Homo sapiens: one gene and its partners. The protein of the gene in region 3 interacts with the protein of the main gene of each other region in a pairwise test. Each region holds a gene or a part of one and is shown on either strand. Other genes may lie near its edges.

Evidence for each region. The genes of interacting proteins can lie anywhere in the genome.
Region 1: the proteins of GNE (region 3) and KRT83 interact in binary tests that used the Homo sapiens proteins (3 or more experiments, as listed by UniProt).
Region 2: the proteins of GNE (region 3) and SPRY3 interact in binary tests that used the Homo sapiens proteins (3 or more experiments, as listed by UniProt).

The regions. Positions count from the first base shown.
Region 1 is NC_000012.12:52,313,785-52,318,414, forward strand, and holds the end of KRT83 (keratin, type II cuticular Hb3), read right to left. Parts: intron 4,187-4,630; coding exon 4,126-4,186; intron 3,993-4,125; coding exon 3,897-3,992; intron 3,240-3,896; coding exon 3,075-3,239; intron 2,810-3,074; coding exon 2,684-2,809; intron 2,330-2,683; coding exon 2,109-2,329; intron 1,560-2,108; coding exon 1,528-1,559; intron 1,035-1,527; coding exon 847-1,034; 3' UTR 517-846; downstream 1-516.
Region 2 is NC_000023.11:155,608,652-155,615,601, forward strand, and holds the start of SPRY3 (protein sprouty homolog 3), read left to right. Parts: upstream 1-3,934; 5' UTR 3,935-3,996; intron 3,997-4,140; exon of another isoform or gene 4,141-4,301; intron 4,302-6,950. UniProt on the Homo sapiens protein: Inhibits neurite branching, arbor length and neurite complexity. Inhibits EGF-mediated p42/44 ERK signaling. Negatively regulates the MAPK cascade, resulting in a reduction of extracellular matrix protein accumulation.
Region 3 is NC_000009.12:36,255,433-36,262,906, forward strand, and holds the start of GNE (bifunctional UDP-N-acetylglucosamine 2-epimerase/N-acetylmannosamine kinase), read right to left. Parts: upstream 3,017-7,474; 5' UTR 2,889-3,016; intron 1,488-2,888; exon of another isoform or gene 1,464-1,487; intron 1-1,463. UniProt on the Homo sapiens protein: Bifunctional enzyme that possesses both UDP-N-acetylglucosamine 2-epimerase and N-acetylmannosamine kinase activities, and serves as the initiator of the biosynthetic pathway leading to the production of N-acetylneuraminic acid (NeuAc), a critical precursor in the synthesis of sialic acids.

The DNA.
Region 1 (4,630 bases), on a different chromosome or scaffold from region 3:
GGTGGGCAGCATGAGGAGGATGTGGCAATGGGGTGGGGTCCAGACTGACACAGGGCAGCCCCCAAGGGTGGCTGCTGGCACTTTTGGTGGTTGTTGCTGTGGTACCTACGTGGAAGGATGGCTGGGGGGCAGAGTGAAGATATGCTAGGAAGAGAAAGTGGGGACCGTGTATGCAAGAAGGGGGCAAAACTCAAACACACACACAAGCACGCATACACGTGCACACATATAAACATGCGCATGCACATGCACTGCCTTCCGGCTGACTTCTGGCCTCCTCGGTCCCCTTCAGAGCCATCCAGACTGACAGGTGTGACAGGTAGAAGGTGCTGTGAGCACAGTCAGCACTGCCTGGCCAGGAGATGACAGAACCATCTGGGGACAAGGCCCTACGGGTGTCCAGGCGGAGAACAGGCCAGAACGACTCTAGTCTTCAGGCCATATCATCAGGCTGGGGTGCTCACCACTTGGTGGGTGTGGGGAACCCCAAGAAAGCAAGACATTGCAGCACACAAAGCAGGTCCCCAAGTTTATTGGAAAAGGGGAGACAAGAGGCCAGAGAGGCAGGGGGAACAGTCTCACAGTGCTTCTTCCAGGGAAGCAAGGCCCTTCTCCCCGGGAGGGGCTGAAGGCTGAGACAGGGGAAGGAATGGGTCTATTCCCCAGCCACAGGCCCCTTTCCAGTGGGATGAAAGGTGGGGAGGAGCCGCTGGTGGGAATGAGCCGATGGTGTATTCTCAGAACACAAGGGGAAAAGCCAGCGATGTGCTGCTGTTTTCAGCTGGTGGTGGGGCAGTGGCACGTCTGGCAGGCAGAAGGGGCTCCCCTGGCTCTCTTTTGGGCCACTTAATGCCTCCCCTGGCCGCAGGAGCCCCCTCCACAGGTGGTGTTCAGCTGGCCACAGGGCTTGCACAAACCAGTGCTCACCACCAGGTTCCCGTTGCAGGGGGCACTGCAGACGCTGCCCGTCACCGGCCGGGAGCCCGACACGCAGAGATCCCCGCACACAACCCCACCCCGGGAGCTGCTGACACCTGTGGGAACAAGGGCAGGGTCAAGAGACCCCTGCTGATGGCCATCCCATCCAGCCACCTTCCTTTGGTCTGTCTGATGTGTCGACCATCCAGGGAAGGATGCAAAGAGCCTCCAGTTCTATTCTGAAGGAGGGAACCCTAGCCTGGGAGCCAGCAGACCGGGGTTCTGGTCCTGGTTCTGCTTTGTGACTTTGGGAGTCCTTTCCTCTGTCTGGGCCTCAGCTTTCTCACCTATATAAGGTGAAGGTTATGAATGACATCTGAGGTCCCTTCTTGCAATGACATCTTATTATTTTTTCCCCTCCCCAACACATTCAGGCTGTGAGGTTCTTCCTGCGAGCTAACCTCAGTCTGTCTTGCTGCATGACCAACCTATCCTCTTTACTGGGGGAATTATTGGAAACACTCCTCCCAAAGTCTCTGCATATATTCATAGTCAAGAAGTCCTTTGTCCCCAGTCTACATTTTCCTTTTCAGGGCTCAAGATACTTACAGACATTCACAGCTTCAACACCTTCACACAGCCTGAGTGGGGAAAAAGTAAGGAAGGGGAAGATAAAAGAAGTCAGAATGAGGTCATCGAATTTCCGCTAGGTGCTGAAATGGGTCATCTCAGGGCTATTTCTGACCTACATTTATTCCCTTGTGCAGCTTAGAAAAAGTTGCCTTTCTGGCAGTTGAAGCAACGTCAGGTCACACTATTTAGCAAGTAGAGTATGGTTGGATTTCAATTCTTATTTGTCTCTCAGCTGTTATTTGCCTTTGTGCAGTGAACAACCTGAACAACCATATCTGTCAGGTCTAGATAGGCTCAACTTTCAGAAGGAGAAGGCCCTCTTGGGAAGACGAGGTCAGGGGTGGAGTTTGGCCAGCAACCCTGCCCTAGAATAGGTGATGTCCAAGAAACCAGGCAGGGTATGGATCTTGGAAGAGTTGAGAATGAGACAACTTGAAGATATGGATCTGGGATCCATAGAGGCAAGAATGTCACCTGGGGACTGAGACTGAGATAGGGAAAAATCAAAGGTGGGCAGGTCTATGCAAGTGGAGTGCTTAGGGCTGGGTTGGACCCACCTCTGCTCCTCGCCCTCCAGCAGGCGCCTGTAGGTGGCGATCTCGATATCCAGGCCTAGCTTGGAGTTCATCACCTCCTGGTACTCCCTGATCAGGCAGGCCATGTCTTGCTTGGCCTTCTGCAGGGCGCCCTCCAGCTCGGCCAGCTTGCAGCGGGCATCACTGAGGGCCGCCTCACCCTGCTGCTCAGACTGGGCCACCGCAGCTTCCAGCTTGGAGTTCTGGGAGGTAGGGGGAATATGGAGAGGATAAAGTGAAGTTTAGTTTCTTGAAATCCCAGCCAGTCTCCAATAGGATCATTCAACTTCTATCTTAAAATATTATCTCTCCAATCAGCTTCCTAACCTTCCTTCCCTCCTCACTTACACTACACACACACACACACACACACACCACACAGATACACACACACACCTTGGCCAAGACAATCAGAAATATTTCAGTAGATTTCTCATCTTACTCTGTCACCCATGAGACTGCACTGGGAAGACTTTTCCAGAATCTAACTCAAATCCCTCTGCCGAGGGCTAACCCCAGTCTCTTCCTACACTGAGGGGTGGGCCGGGCTCTGGTACCTGGCACTTGGCATTCTCCACCTCGGCTGTCAGCCTCTGGATCATGCGGTTCAGCTCGTTGATCTCCTCCTTGGTGCGGCGCAGGGTCTCCCCGTGCCTGATCACTGTGGCCTTCATCTCCTCACACTGCAGGAAGCAGAGATGTTCATGAGGCTCAGGATGAGACATCCCATTCATTCAGGACAGCTCAGATGATTGCACAGATTGTGCAGTGCTCGGCCTGTGCAACCACACGTGGCAGTCCTGCCCTGCCACCCCAACATGAGAGCTATTGGTTTTTCTCTTACCATCCTTAGGGATCAGAATCCCTAGACAAAGAAGCCTTTTCTACTAGATACCTCACATCCCTCCCACTGCCATGTCTAGCAGGCAGGTGTCCTGTGCCGCTCACCTTGCTGCGATACCAGGACTCGGCCTCAGCCCGGCTACGGGTGGCAATGTCATCATACTGTGCCTTGATCTCGGCAACGATGCAGTCCATGTTCAGGTCCCGGCTGTTGTCCAGCTTGACAACCACGGAGGTGTCTGAGATGTGGGATTGGAGAATGCGGATCTCCTGCAGGAGGTGGGGAAAGGAAGGACAACTCACTTATCTGGGCTTCTCCTAATCCCTGGATGCCTATCATCCTTTTGGCTCATCGGGAGTGAACTTCTCATGTTTAGAGAAACAAACCTGATGAAATCACATAACTTTCTGCACAAATAGGAAATCCCTTTAGAGGAAAACACAACCACTTCTCAACTGCTTGCTTTTGGAATTATTCAGGCCCATGTGCAGCCAGCATGGTCCAGATGCTTTCCAGGGGCTCAGACCCTGTATGGGGGGCCTCTTTCCATTCTCCTAGACCAACCCCATGTAGGAAGGCTATTGCTGCCAGAGAAAGCCCTGGGCCAGAGCAATGGGTTCAATTCTGTTTGATGCTGTGTGGGGTCTATGCTGCAGTCCACTGGCTCAGGGGAAGGATGCAGGGCAGGTTCCCAAGGCACAGGTGTCTGGGGTGCTCACTCTCCTGCCCCTTACTAAATTTGTTCCTTTTTGGCTTTCCATCCGTTTGCCTCCCTGTTCCTTCCCTCTCCTTGCTCCCTGCCAACCCTCCAGCCGTGAGCCTGGGTTCATATGTCAGCAGGCCTGGTTCATGCCTGTGGGTGTCTGGGCAGAGGGTCAGGGATCCCATGGGGGGATCTGTGCCCACCATGGTTGAGAGCCCCTCACCTCCTCGTACAGCCGCCTCAGGAAGTCAATCTCCTGGATCAGGGCCTCCACGTTGGCCTCCAGGTCTGACTTGCGGAGGTAGGCGCAGTCCACATCCTGGGTGGGGTAGAAGGGGCTGTGAGGCCGGCTTTCCTCAGAGGGCTCTGAGGACCTGGCTGCCATGTGGCAGGACAAAGAGGATGGGTGGCGGGACTCAGGGCGGGCTCAGGGCCAGCTGGGCTTCACTCACCTTCTTTAGAGCCACAAACTCGTTCTCTGCTGTGGCTCGAAGTGCTACTTCTTCTTCATACCTGAGGTGAGCAGGGAGAACAGGACCTTGTCTGAACAGCTCTTGATCTTGGCCATGAGCATATATGCAAAGGAGTCTCTTTCCTAGACCTCCCCCTGCTTGTCTCCTGCCCCCAAGTGAAATGGGTGGGGCTCTGCAGGAACCAGGCTGCTGGCCTGGGTACTACTGGGATGCACTGGAGAAATGAAGTGCCTACTCCCCTGTTTTTTTTTGTTTTTGTTTTTGAGATGGAGTCTCGCTCTGTCGCCCAGGTTGGAGCACAGTGGCGCGGTCTCGGCTCACTGCAAGCTCCGCCTCCCAGGTTCATGCCATTCTCCCCTCTCAGCCTCCCGAGTAGCTGGGACTACAGGTGCCCACCACCACGCCTGGCTAATTCACTCCCCTGTTTTGGTGGAGGTTGGGAGAGCAGGATCTGGAAGCTGAGTGTGTGAATGTGTGTGGTTGG
Region 2 (6,950 bases), on a different chromosome or scaffold from region 3:
TAGGCATCTGACAAAGTTCTAATATCTAGAATCTATAAGGCACTTAAATTAACAAGCAAAAACCAAACAACCTCATTAAAAAGTGGGCAAAGGATATGAACAGACACTTTTCAAAAGAAGACATACATGTGGTCAACAAGCATATGAAAAAATGCTCAACATCACTAATCAATGAAAACCACAATGAAATACCATCTTACACCAGTCAGGATGGCTATTACTAAAAAGTCAAAAATAACAGATGTTGGCGATGGTGCAAAGAAAAGGGAACACTTATACACTGTTGGTGGGAATGTCAGTTAGTTCAGCCACTGTGGGAAGCAGTTTGACAATTCCTCAAAGAACTTAAGACAGAACTACCATTTGACCCAGCCATCCATTATTGGGTATATACCCAAAGAAATATAAATCGTTCTGCCATAAAGACACATGCATGCATATGTTCCTTACAACACTATTCACAACAGCAATGACATGGAGTCAACCTAAATGCCCATCAGTGGTATATGGAATAAAGAAAATTTGGTACATATACACCATGGAATACTATGCAGCCACAAAAAGAATGAGATCATGTCCTTGGCAACAACATGGATGGAGTTGGAGGCCATTATTCTAAGCAAAGTAACACAGGAACAGAAAACCAAACACCACATGTTCTCATTTATAAATGGGAGCTAATATTGAGTACACATGGACACAAAGAAGGGGACAATAGACACGGGGGCCTACTTGAGGATGGAGATTGGGAGGAGGGTGAGGATCAAAAAACTATCTATTGGGTACTATGCTTATTGCCTGTGTGATGAAATAATATGTACGCCACACCCCTGTGACACACAATTTATCTATAGAACCAACCTGCCCCTATACCTCTGAAACTAAAATAAAAGTAAAATAAATAAAAACCTTTGCCCTTCAACATACAGTAGTAAGAAAATGAAAAGACAAACCACAGACTTGGAGAAAATATTTTCAAACTACATATCTGATAAAGGACTTGTATATAAGCAACTCTTACATCTCAATAGTAAGGAAGCAAACAACCTAATCAGAAATGGGCAAAATATGTGAGGAGACATTTCTCCAAAGAACATATACAAATATCTAACAAGCAAATAAAAAGATGCTCAATTAGCCATTAAGGAAATGCAAATCTAAATCACAATGAGATACTTCTCCACACCCTCAAGAATAGCTACACATTTGAAAAAAACAAAACAAAACGGGGAAATAACAAATATGGTGATGATGTGAAGAAATACATTGCTGGTGGTTCATATAAATCTAGTAACTGTAAAATAGTACAGCCCCTTGGGAAAACAGTTTGGCAGAAAATTAAACATACAGTTATAATATGACCAAGTAATTCCACTCATAGGTGTTTAACCAAGAGAATTGAAAACGAATGTCCACCCAAAAACTTGCACACAAACGTTCATAGCAGCTTTATTCATAATAGCCAAAAGATAGAAACAATCCAAGTGTTCATCAACTGATGACTAGATAGACAAAATGTAGTATACTGATGCAATGGAATATTACTCAGCTATAAAAAGGAATGAAGTATTTATATATGCCACAACATTAATAAACTTTGGAGACATTATTTAGATGAAATTTTCAGGATAGGCAAATCCATAGGCACAGAAAGTAGATTAGTGGTTGTCTGATGCTGGGAGTAGTAATGAAGACTGACTGCAGATGGGCAAGGAAGATGTCACTGACGTGATGCAAATGTTTTAAAATTAGATTGTAGTGATGGTTGCACCACCCAATAAATTTATAAAATCACTTTAAATATGCAAATTTTATGGCATGTAAATTATCCTAAATACAATATTTAAACACTGTGAGCATCAAGAAAAAAAGAGAACTTTCATCTCCTTACTTTGACAATTTATTAGGGATCATACAGAGGTCATTAGGCTGTTTGTTGTTGTTGCTGTGGTGGTGGTGGGTTGTGGTTTTCCCATGAGAGTCGAGGGTCATGCAACCATTTGGTCTTTTAAAATAAAAATTTTTAAATCAATTAAAAAAGAATATTGCTGGCTTGAAATTTGGAGTAGTCATGGGACAAAGAGAAGTGGATGGATTTTTTAAAATATTCAGGATGTAGAAGTGACAAGATTTTGTAGCAGTTAGATATAGGGAGTGGGGAAAGGTGAGGAGGCCTCAGACTGAGTATGCTTAAAGTTGAATTCCTGTTGTCCTCCCGAACTGGCTGTCCTGTGCTGCCAATCTCAGTGAATGGATCAGCATCCTGGCACAGAGTTGACATTCATTGATTGCCTTTGGAGTGAATGAACAGAGTATGATGAATAGAGTGAAAATATAGCTAAACAAGGCAGACACCAGGTCCTGCCAAATAGCCAATGCAAAACTCACCCTTCAGGTTGGCTCAGCAGATATCCAGCATAATTTTTTTCTCACCTTTCAAACCATTTGGGAAATCATGAGGTATTTTCCTCATCCAGAAGAACACTCACCTACATATCAGCCACTCCTTCCCTAGAACCTACAGGTATGGAGCAGGCTGGGTTTTTTCAAGAGCCTCTTATCCTGTAAATCTTTACACAGGGCAATGGCAGGTGCATGTACAGCCCATATGAGCCCAGGGGATGCTTGGTATTATAGAAAGGGGATCACAGTGGTGCCCAACTGATGGATCCGTGTTCAGTTTGCAGGAAGAGACTCTTCCCACCAAAGAGGTTTGTTAATCCTGGGGTCCCCCTCCCAGCCCCTGGAGGCATCAGATACAGCTGTCAGAAACATTGTAAACACCCAGTGATCCACTTGGCTGGTTTTACTGTTGTTCCCAGGGTTGACAAGCAGAAATACAGAACAAATGGTGGTTCCTGAAACAGAGGCCAAAACAAGGAAGTGATCTGTTCCAGTCCAAGCTTCCAAGAAATAAAGAACTAGGTGGGGCACACTAAACAAGCCCCCAGACTCAACCACCCCAGTAAACATTCCCTTCATCACACTGGTTATGAGATAAAGTATAAGTTTTTTAAGCCTTATTATAAATAACCTTACTTAACGTCTTCTGGTTGTTGTGAAAATTATAGTATTTTGCAAAATATATGTTCACCATTATCATTACCACCAGTTCCTTAATGAGGAGAAACCAGAAGTTGACACCAAAATGTTGATCCATAATGTTTATAGTCCTTCTTTGTCTTTATAGTTAATGTAAAATAAACTGTATGTAATTTTTACTACAGTGTGTCCTGAAAGGGCAAACCAAGCTACAAGCAACTCTAAAAGACTACTACTGTATGGGAGTGGATTATGAAAGTGTTTCTTAAATATGAGAGCTCAAGTTTTTCTTTCAGCGACTGAGTTAAAGCACGCAACTCATTTATCATGAGACTTTTGCTAGGCAGTGTACTATGTCCACTCAACACACATCATTTTAGGCAATCATCTGGTTAAAACGTTTAATAGTATGGCATTCACAAACCCATTCTTCAGAGTTGACATTCAATTAATGGTTTGAATGTCGTTTCCAGGGCAGTCAGGAGTATTTAAAGGCTTTTCCATTGTTTTCGGAAGAGAAAGAAAACTTCCTAGCCTAACTTACTTACCCAGAGCCTTGCTCCAGAGGGGGCAGACAAAGGGTAAAATCTGGGCAGAGAACATTAGTGGATATGAGAACGAAAGAAAGTGCTGCAAGATCTTGCAGACAGCTGAGTTCCACCTTCCACTCTACTGCCGAACAAAGTGAGGCAGGAAGAGGGTAGGGACTCGCTGAAAGCTAAACACCAAGTCAGTGACAGATCCAGGGCTGTAAAGTCCGACCGAGATTGAAACAATGTACACTGGGCGTCAGTCCCAACGCGAGCTTGCTCCAGCTCTTCCAGCTCTTCCTGAGCGCTAGGCCCATCCGGCCTCACGCTGATCTCCGGGCAGACTCTGTCGCGCAACTGGCACAGATCGTGACGACAACCCTGCGGCAAGGCAGGAGTGGCCTTCCTCTCCGCCAGGGTTAAGGTGAGTACCACCGCCCTTGGGCCCAGCAGCCCGGGTGAGAGCCTCCGCCGCCCACTGCGACAGGCCTGAAAGCGAGCGCCTGGGTAAACCCACCCGTAGCACCCATGGGGACACCCCTTCCCTGACCCACGGGACGGAACCCACCTGTGCTGGAGGTCGTGACTGCTAACTCCGCAGAGTGGGCAGAATTCCAAGCAAGGAGAGTCTCGGGAGGCAGCCTTTCACCCGCCTTTTGCCTTTTCACCCCCAAAACTGTCGGCCCCACGCTCCCCTCCCCCAGCCCGCTCGGGCCCAGCGGAGAGCCTGTAGGCCCCGCCCCACTCCTTCCGGCCGTGCAGGGTGGGTGCCTCTGGCGCCCGGGACTTCGCCCGGTGCTAGGGCGTCAGTCTCCCATTCGGAAGGACTGGGCCGGGGCACTCTATTCAATCGCCTTTAGTGAACATACTTGAAGCTATAGGTGCAGGGATGAGAAAAAACAGGCCCATAAAGCTATAAAACCTGGGTCCCCTGCCTGCCATTTCAGTGCTCCTCCCGAGTCCTCCCACTACGCTTCTATTTATGGTAGTTTATCCAGGTTTACTAGAAGTAAAATTCTACTACCTTTCCACCATTTTCTTGAGTTTATGGAAGTCATATACCGCTCATTACTCCCATCGATTCAGCTGAGCATCTTGAACCCAGGGTCCAGATACAGTGCTACATACAGTGAGCACTAGAAGGGAATACCCATTAGGAATGAACACCTTATGCAGGTAAAAATTTAAGAACGATACATATTACAAAGAAGGACCAAAAAGTATACTGAAATAGTATATGCAATGGAAATCCAAGGCAGATTTAAAAAATGAGAGTAAGAACAACAAAAAAAATCAAATGCATATATACTGAAAATGGGAAATTGTGCAGTATTATATTTATTCGAGATTAAAAGTGTTAATCTAATGTCAAAAAAGCAATAAAGGAATTGGTTTGTAGAAGTCAGGATCAACAAAAGAAGAAAAAGCCTCCACATCTTTGCCCTGGAATTCCTTCTGCCATGAATGCTCTTACCCGGCACTTGTTTATTTGGAAAACGGCTACTCGTTATTTTTGACTCAATTTAGATAGCACCTCCTCTGTGAAGCCTTCCCTGTCTTTCCCAGATAAGTTTGTATATTTTTTTTCCCTAGGTCCAGTATGCCCAATGGATCTCGTACAGGCCTCAAGAGTACCACTTACTCTAGATTATAATTTCTCTTTCTGCATGTCTTTGTCCTCTAATGAATAAGTAGCTTCTTGAGAGCAGAAAACTTGTGTTTTTCATATTTGTTCTCCAAGCACAGAGTCTAAAATGTCTATATATTTAATAAATATTTGTTAAAAAATTTCTAGAACCAGTGTGTAAACAAAAGGACATATCCAGAGTGTGAATGTAACATAAAGAGGAAAAACTAAGTACAATGAGAATCTAGATTTAGTCTGGCTGGTATTCATTCATGCAATAAACATTAATGAGTGCCTACTGTATGCCAGGCACTGTACTAAGATCTGGGTGTAAAATGATAAACAAAGCCCAGATATAGTCCATGCCCTTATGCCCTTATGTTTAAAGAACAAATTGGAGTTGGCCAGGCAAATGGGAAAACAAAAAAAGTTTTGGGCAGAAAGAACAGCATGATCCAATGTCCTGTAACAGGAAGATCATAACTGTAGCAATTAGAGTGAATGAGCTCACTTAAAGCTAAGCTGAAATCAACACAAAGTACTCAGAAAAGGCAACAGGTTGATAGACAATACCTGTTTGTTTGAGTCAGTAAAAGAAGCAAGTTTCCTTAATAATAGTAACCAACATTTATAAAATGTGCACTATATGCTAAACACTGGGCTAAGTGTTTGTTTTATATCAAACACTTAAGGTAGATGATATTATTTCTACTTTAAGGATAAGGCAACTGAGGCACAGATAGGTTAAGCAATTTTCACCAGGATCACATGGCAGATAAATTTCAGAGCTGAGATTCAAACCTAGGTAATTTGGCTCCAGACTCTAGGGAGCCTGGATATTTTACTTTTAATAAAATATAAATTTTACTTGTAATAAAATAAAAGTCAGATATTTTACTGTTTCCTCTCTCTGTGTGTGTGTGTGTAGCAGGTCACATGGTGTATGGCACAGAGTGGAACTTCTTAATATTTTTGGAATGAATGAATAGCTGAATAAAAGCAATAGGTACAAATGTGCTAGAAAACAAAATAGAAAAAAACAATAGTATCTGGGTCTTTTTATGTTCCCGCCACACCAGCTGTTCCTAGAACACACCAAACTTGTTCTTGTTCTGCTTCCAAAATATAATCTGCTCATGCATTTGTCCCTCACTGTACTGCTAACATTCCGGACCAGAGTTTGGCTTTTTTTTTTTATCTGTGAAGGGTCAGCTGGTAAATATTTTAGGCTTTTTGAGTCACATACAGTCTTTGTCTCCAGGTATTAAATTCTGCTTTCATAGAGTGAAAGAATTCACAGACAATACATAAATGAATGCGTGTAGGTATGTTCCAATAAAAGTTTATTTACAAAAACAGGCAAGAGGCAGGATTTGCCCTGTGGGCAATAATTTTTAGACTCTTGCTCTAGGCCAAATTATCACCATCTCTTGCATGGACTACTGTATTAAATGATGTCTGAGAGCCATCATCTTTGACTAACATCTACACCTTTGTTTTATCAGCCTCTCAGTGAAGCTTTAGTGATCTCTAATCATATTCATAACCTTGAGTTCTTGAAAGGTGGTTAAAACTATGTGTTAATTGTGATTGTGAACTTCGATTTATCAAAGATGGTCTTTAAAAGAACTACTAGTGATCTTTGAAAGAGTTAAAAAATTAAAGAAGGAAGATTTATTATAAAAGTAGTGACTTTTAGCCAGAAAATAAATATTCTGGACACAGTGCAATGTTGAATTTGGCTGAAGCTT
Region 3 (7,474 bases):
TTGACCTCAAGTCATCTGCCTTGGCCTTGCCTCACAAAAATTAAAAATGTAAATTAAAAGCCACAAGAGGCTAAATAGCAAAAAGTCTTCTCATATGTGTTCCCCAGCTATATAATTCTTTTCCCTGAAAGAAACTATAGTACGAATTGGAAAAGGACCACTGCACTCCAGCCTGGGTGACAGAGTGAGACCCTATCTTTAAAAAATTAAAATTTAAATAAAAAAATAAAAACAAGCAATCTTTTAAATGAACATTATGAAGTAGGTGCATTGTCCAGCACAGAGCTCAGAAAGTCAGAAGGTGGGACTGAATACTTGCATCCATTTCACTCTTCAATTCTATAATTGTACCTGAGCCACCAAAAGAAAGACAGAAAAACAAATAATAGGTGACAGATGGATGGATGATAGATGTTAGACAGATAGATGATAGTTTTCGGACAAGTTTGCCTTCATCTTGAACTCACTGGCAATCGCTGAAAAACCCAATTCTTGTTTGTTTTTGTTTTTGAGACAGGGTCTCACTCTGTTGCCCAGGCTGGAGTGCAGTGACATGATCTCAGCTCACTGCAACCTCCACCTCCCAGGTTGAAGCGATTCTCCTGCCTCAGCCTCCCAAGTAGCTGGGATTACAGGCATGTGACACCATGCCCAGCTAATTTTTTTGTATTTTTAGTAGAGGTGGGGTTTCACCATGTTGGCCAGGCTGGTCTCGATCTCCTGACCTCAGGTGATCCGCCGCCTGGCCTCCCAAAGTGCTTGGATTACAGGCATGAGCCACCATACCCAGCCAGAGAAACCCAATTCTTTTTTTTTTTTTTTTTTTTTTTTTTTGAGACAGACAGCCTGTCGCCCAGGCTGGAGTGCAGTGGTGCAATCTCGGCTCACTGCAACCTCCGCTTCCTGGGTTCAAGCGATACTCCTATCTCAGCCTCCTGAGTAGCTGGGATCACAGGCGCCTGCCACCACATCGAGCTAATTTTTGTATTTTTAGTAGAGATGAGGTTTCATCATGTTGGCCAGGCTGGTCTTGAACTCCTGACCTCAGGTGATCCGCCTGCATTGGCCTCCCAAAGTGCTGGGATTACAAGCGTGAGCCACCACGCCCGGCAGAAACCCAAATTCTTAAAGACTACTTTCTGCATTCTCTCAACTCAAGACCGTCCATTATAAATGCTGACAAAAGGTGATTAACCCTTTCCAGAAAAATAATGCCCCACTCAACCGTGGAAAGAGTTCTTTGTGAAGAGAATATTTTTAAGGCTATCAAATAAAAATAATGAACACTTGGGTCAAGCAGTCACTGAACAGAGGAAACAACAGTAAACATTTGCTGAGCGCTTCTGAAGTGCCAAACATTGTGCTAATAGGTTTCTTCACATGTATTAACTCATTTCATCCTCACAGCCCTCGTATTAGCCGCGTTTTACAGACAGGAAGCACAGAGAAAATAATTTACTTGCCCCAAATCACTGTTTAATAGTTCATCATTGGCCAGGCGCGGTGGCTGACGCCTGTAACCCCAGCACTTTGGGAAGCCGAGATGGGCGGATCACTTGATGTCTGTTCAAGTCCAGCCTGACCAACATGGTGAAACCCCGTCTCTACTAAAAATACAAAAATTAACCGAGCATGGTGGCAGGCGCCTGTAATCCCAGCTACTTGGGAGGCTGAGGCAGGAGAATTACTTGAACCCAAGTTCATCATTGAGAGAACCGAAAATCAAACCCTTGTCTGAATGACTTCAGCGCTCAGAACACTGTCCCACACCCAGTGTTTGCCTTGTGTCTGTTCATTCCATAAACATCCATGAGTACAAATCTTCCTCGAAAACATGATAAATCGCCCTTTCATCAGTGCAATGAGGATGGGACTCAAAGGAATAAGAAGGAAAGAGCTATATAAAGCTGTCTGAAAGTCAGGGCCCCATTCCGACGCTATAATTCGGTTTGGCTTCAACTGCGGCGCTCCTACAGTTGGGTTAACGAGTTACCTATACTGCGAAACTGTACCCCACCCCTCCTACCAGAGTAGTAAAAAATACGTTCTTGTGTTCTAACAATTTTACAAGCGTAAAACTGGGGGGAGGGGCCGGGCGCGGTGGCTCACGCCTGTAATCCCAGCACTTTGGGAGGCCGAGGTGGGCGGATCACGAGGTCAGGAGATCGAGACCATCCTGGCTAACATGGTGAAACCCCGTCTCTACTAAAAATACAAAAAATTAGCCGGGCGTGGTGGTGGGCGCCTGTAGTCCCAGCTACTCGGGAGGCTGAGGCAGGAGAATGGCGTGAACCTGGGAGGCGGAGCTTGCAGTGAGCCGAGATCGCGCCACTGCACTCCAGCCTGGGCGACAGAGCGAGACTCAGTCTCAAAAAAAAAAAAAAAAAAAAAAAAAAAAAAAAAAATTGGGGTGAGGGCGGGGAATTAACGTTTCTCAAATATACAAGGAAGCCCAGACTCAGAATGTAGACTCAGAGCAGGGAGGGGACCTTTTAGCCCAGCCTTTTCACGCCAGGACAGCTCGCCTGCCAGGCAGTTCTCCACCCTCTCTCGCCCCGCCCCGCTCCTAACGGGACAGTCAGCATCCCCCCTGATTGGACAGCACTGTTCCAGGGGACAAGTCAACCTGGGCCTCCCTCTACATCCCCTCCCCTGCTCATCAGGGCCCACCCCGAGCCACACGGCGGAGCCCTGAATTGGGCCAAAGAGGTGCCCTATGGTGAGGCCTGCAGGACATTGGGCGAGAGCCGGGTCCAGTGTGGGCCTCGGGGCGCGGTGGGGTGGAAAGCGGCCGGGGAGGGGAGGCCTGGGGCAGGAGGCCGGGGGAGGCGGCCCTGGGGGTGGGCAGGATGCTCTCCCGGAGTCCCACGCCGCCGCGCGGCTCTCACCAGACGCCGTCAGAGGCTCCCTCCCACGCCGCCACCGCGCTCCTCGGGCGAGGGACGAACCAAGCGCCACGAAGCAGGCAGAGCGCGAGCCTGCCCCTCGGTTTCCGCGCTCGGGCGCGCGGGTAGACGACTCGTCGCTCGACCTTGTCCCCACTCCTCGCTCGCCCAGCCACGCCCACCCGGAGTGCCGAATCCGCGATCGCGCCCTGACGCCACCCGAGAGAGCTCGCGTGATTGGCTGCTCCCGTCCCCGTCCCCCACCTTCCCGGCGGTATTTTGAGGCGCAGGCAGGGTGCTGACCAGCGGACCATCTTCCATGGCCTCTGCCGCGCTGGAGCTGCTGCGGGGCTGTCCTGCCAGCTTGTGCTCCCGCCCCGAAGCGTCCTCCTCCACTGGCGACACACGCACTGAAGCCCGAGTCTTCCCGCTGGGTAGTTGTTTTGGTCTTGCACCCAAGGAGGGATTTCTTGCGCCTCTTGTTCCCTCAGTTATTTCATAAACCAGGACCGCAACTATACTGTCGTGTAGCGCGGCCACCCCACAGCGGTCCCTGACGTTAACCCTTGCCGTGACTGCTAGAAGACACTGGTGGAGTGTGAATTGATGACCAAGGCATGGCAGAGCCTCTCTCATCTTTATAATCAGTTCAGCGGCGGCCTCCACTACAGGGAACTCCCAGCCAGTCCCGAGGCCTAGGGACATCCAGGGAGAAACGTGGCGGTGGTAAAGGGCTTGCGCAGCTCCTGAAGATAAATAAGACTTTGGGTTGCTGTTGTTTTTGAGACAAGGGTCTCACTATGTTGTCCAGGCAGCACTCGAGCTCCTGGCCTCAAGCCATCTTTTCTGGCTTCAGCCTTCTGAGTAGCTGGGACTACAGGACCATGCCACCGAATCAGGCTTTAAGACTTTTTAATGACCCTTTCAAATTTCTGAGTCACTCCCAGCATTTTAGGAAGCCAAGTGAGAAGGCTAGCTTGAGGCCAGGAGTTCGAGACCAACCTGGGCAACAGATTCCTGAGTCACCATTGACAAGAAACTTTGAATGAAGTTGATGATACAAAATATTAACATCTTTTTTTTTTTACAACCATTAAAAATTTACCACAGGTGAAACTAAGTCTAACAGTTCATTGAGATTTCTTGCTGTACAGCAAATTTCAAATCTCATCAAACTGCAGTTTGTGATGCATTTCAATTAATAATGAAGCTCTAATTTGTAAAATACTTATGAACTCTTAGTTCTCCTGTGGCTAGCTTGGAGCCACGAAAAGGTCACATTAGCCACAAAAGAAAAGACATTAAGGGATTTTTGCAAGGAAGTGCTATCAGATTTCTTTTTTGTTTGTTTGTTTGTTTTTGAGACAGGGTCCCACTCTATCGCCCAGGCTGGAGTACAGTGGTACGATCTCAGCTCACTGAAACCTCCACCTCCCAGGTTCAAGCAATTCTCCTGCCTTAGCCTCCCGAGTAGCTGGGATTACAGGCACACACCACCATGCCCGGCTAATTTTTGTATTTTTAGTAGAGACGGGGGTTTCACCATGTTGGCCAGACTGGTCTCAAACTCCCGACCTTAGGTGATCCGCCCACTTTGGCCTCCCAAAGTGCTAGGATTACAGACATGAGCCACCACACCAGGCCCAGATTTCTTTTTTAAATCACACTGGCTGCTCTGTGGAGAATGGATTGGTAGCAGTGAAACTCAACTGAAGTGGATGGATATGATGTTTATTTTGGAAGTAAAATTGATGAGACTTAATTATAGGTTAGATATAAGGGGATGACAGGGAAAAAGACTCAAGAATGACCTCCGGGCCAGGTGTGGTGGCTCACACCTGCAGTCCCAGCACTTTGGAAGGCAGAGGTGGGAGGATCGCTTGTGCTCAGGAGTTCCAGGCAACAGTGAGCTCGATCAAACCACTGCACTCCAGCCTGGGTGCTGGATCGAGACCTCATCTCTTAAAAAAAAAAAAAAAAAGAAAGAAAGAAAGAAATGACTTCCAGGTTTCTGCCATTAGGAATTGGGTGGTTGGTTGTGTGCTAAGATGAGAAAGGCTGGGAGAGTGACCTGGTTTGGGAAGAAAAAAGTAAAGTTTTAATTTAGGGCATGTTATGATTGAGATGCCTGTGAGCCACATGAAGCTATTAAATGTGCAGTGAGATATATGAATCTGAAGACAGACTCACCAGACTATAAATGGTGTATTAGTTTCACATATGCTGTAACAAATTACCACAAAATTAGGGTCTTTAAAACAACACAAATTGGCCAGGCGCGGTGGCTCACGCCTGTAATCCTAGCACTTTGGGAGGCCGAGGCGGGCGGATCACAAGGTGAGGAGATCGAGACCATCCTGGCTAACATGGTGAAACCCCATCTCTACTAAAAATACAAAACATTAGCCGGGCGTGGTGGCGGGCGCCTGTAGTCCCAGCTACTCGGGAGGCTGAGGCAGGAGAATGGCGTGAACCTGGGAGGCGGAGCTTGCAGTGAGCCGAGATCGCACCACTGCACTCCAGCCTGGGCAACAGAGCGAGACTCTATCTCAAAAAAAAAAAAAAAAAAAAAAAAAAAAAAAACCCACAAATGTATTATCCTACAGTTTTGGACGTTAAGGATCCAAAATGGGTTTCAAGGGACCAAAATCAAGGTGTCAGTTGGGTTGCCTTCCTACTGGAGGCTGCCAGGGAGAATTCATTTTCTTCCCCCTTCCAGATTCTAGAGGCTGCCCACATTCCTTGGCACATGGCACCTCTGACTTCTGCCTCCCTTGCCACATCTTTTGTGACTCTACTGCCTTCCTCTCTCACTTAAAAAGACCCCGGTGATTACATTGGGTCCACTCAATAGTCCAAGATAATTTTCCCTCTCAAAGTCCTGGTCACATCTGCAAAGTCCCTCTTGCCAAGTAAGGAAACATGGTCACAGGTTCAGGGATTAAGATGTGGATATCTAGGCCAGGCACGGTGGCTCACTCCTGTAATCCCAGCACTTTGGGAGGCTGAGGTGGGCGGATCACGACGTCAGGAGATCGAGACCAGCCTGGCCAACATGGTGACACCCCGTCTCTACTAAAGCAAAATTAGCCGGGGATGGTGGCGCACGCCTGTAGTCCCGGCTACTTGGGAGGCCGAGGCAGGAGAATAAATGGAACCCAGGAGGCAGAGGTTGCAGTGAGCCGAGATCGTGCCACTGCACTCCAGCCTGGGCGACAGAGTGAGACTCCGTCTCAAAAAAAAAAAAAAAAAGATGTGGATATCTTTGGGGAGCTATTTATTCTGCCTACCACAAGAGGTATTGAAAGTCACTTGAAGTCAGGTCAGGCGTGGTGGCTCAAGCTTGTAATCCCAGCACTTTGGGAGGCCGAGGCGGGTGGATCACGAGGTCAGGAGATCAAGACCATCCTGGCGAACACTTGTGAAAACCCGTCTCTACTAAAAATACAAAAAAAATTAGCCGAGTGTGGTGGCAGGCGCCTGTAGTCCCAGCTACGCGGGAGGCTGAGGCAGGAGAATGGCGTGAACCCGGGAGGCGGAGCTTGCAGTGAGCGGAGATCGCGCCACTGCACTCCAGCCTGGGCAACAGAGCGAGACTCAATCTCAAAAAAAAAAAAAAAAGAAAGTCACTTGAAGTCAAGATGGGTATGTTGCTTTTAAAGTTACATAGTGTACCTCCAAATATGCAGAATAGAACGTTAAATTTTTCTTCCTGAAAGGTAAGAAAAATTAACTTCAAAAACAATTTAAAATCTGGGTGCTGATTACATAGGTGTGTTTAGTTTGTAAAAACTCAAATTATATACGTAATATATATGTACCTTTTATGTGTATTTTACTGTAATGTGTTTTAAAAATAATGCTTAATATAGCTAGAAAAATATAACTATAAATATAAATACCTTTAACGGTAGGGAATACATTTTGAGAATTGTATGCACTTTCTAAGCCACCTGCAAGTTTTGTGTTTGACCAACACTGAGAATTTTATATTTCCATAATCATTTAACCTTAAATGAAATAATCTTTTTAGAATTTTCTTCTCTGCTTTCTTGAGATCAAATTGCAGCAAGGACCCTTAGGAGGCATTTTCTCTTGGCTTTTTGAGATCACTTTCCTATGGGTAAATAATATTACATTTCTGGATTTCTGTTACTTTACTGTTTAACATTGTGAATTGACATACCAAAAATCGTCACTAGTTAAGTTTGGTTTGTATGATTTGGTTTCATTTGACTTTAGTCTGAGAACTCTACAAGTTGCAAAAAAATTACTTATGGCTTTGTAGTATAATAAAATCAGATTTTTCTAGAGATTACTCCATAAGCATAAATATAACTTCAAGCATTCAGGGCATAACTAGGCTATCAATGACTCCTAGGCTTTAAGAGATCCTCTAATCTAACCTTCTCATCAGAGTGGGAGACCTTCCTACAGCACCCCTGACAGATGCTTATCTGGCCACTTTGGGAACATTTCTTGTAACAGACTTGTCTTATTTTATTTGGTGATTTAATTATTTTAAAGTACTCTGCCTCTCTGTAAATTCTACCCGTGTATTTCGTAGCCTAAACATTTCTAAACTAAAA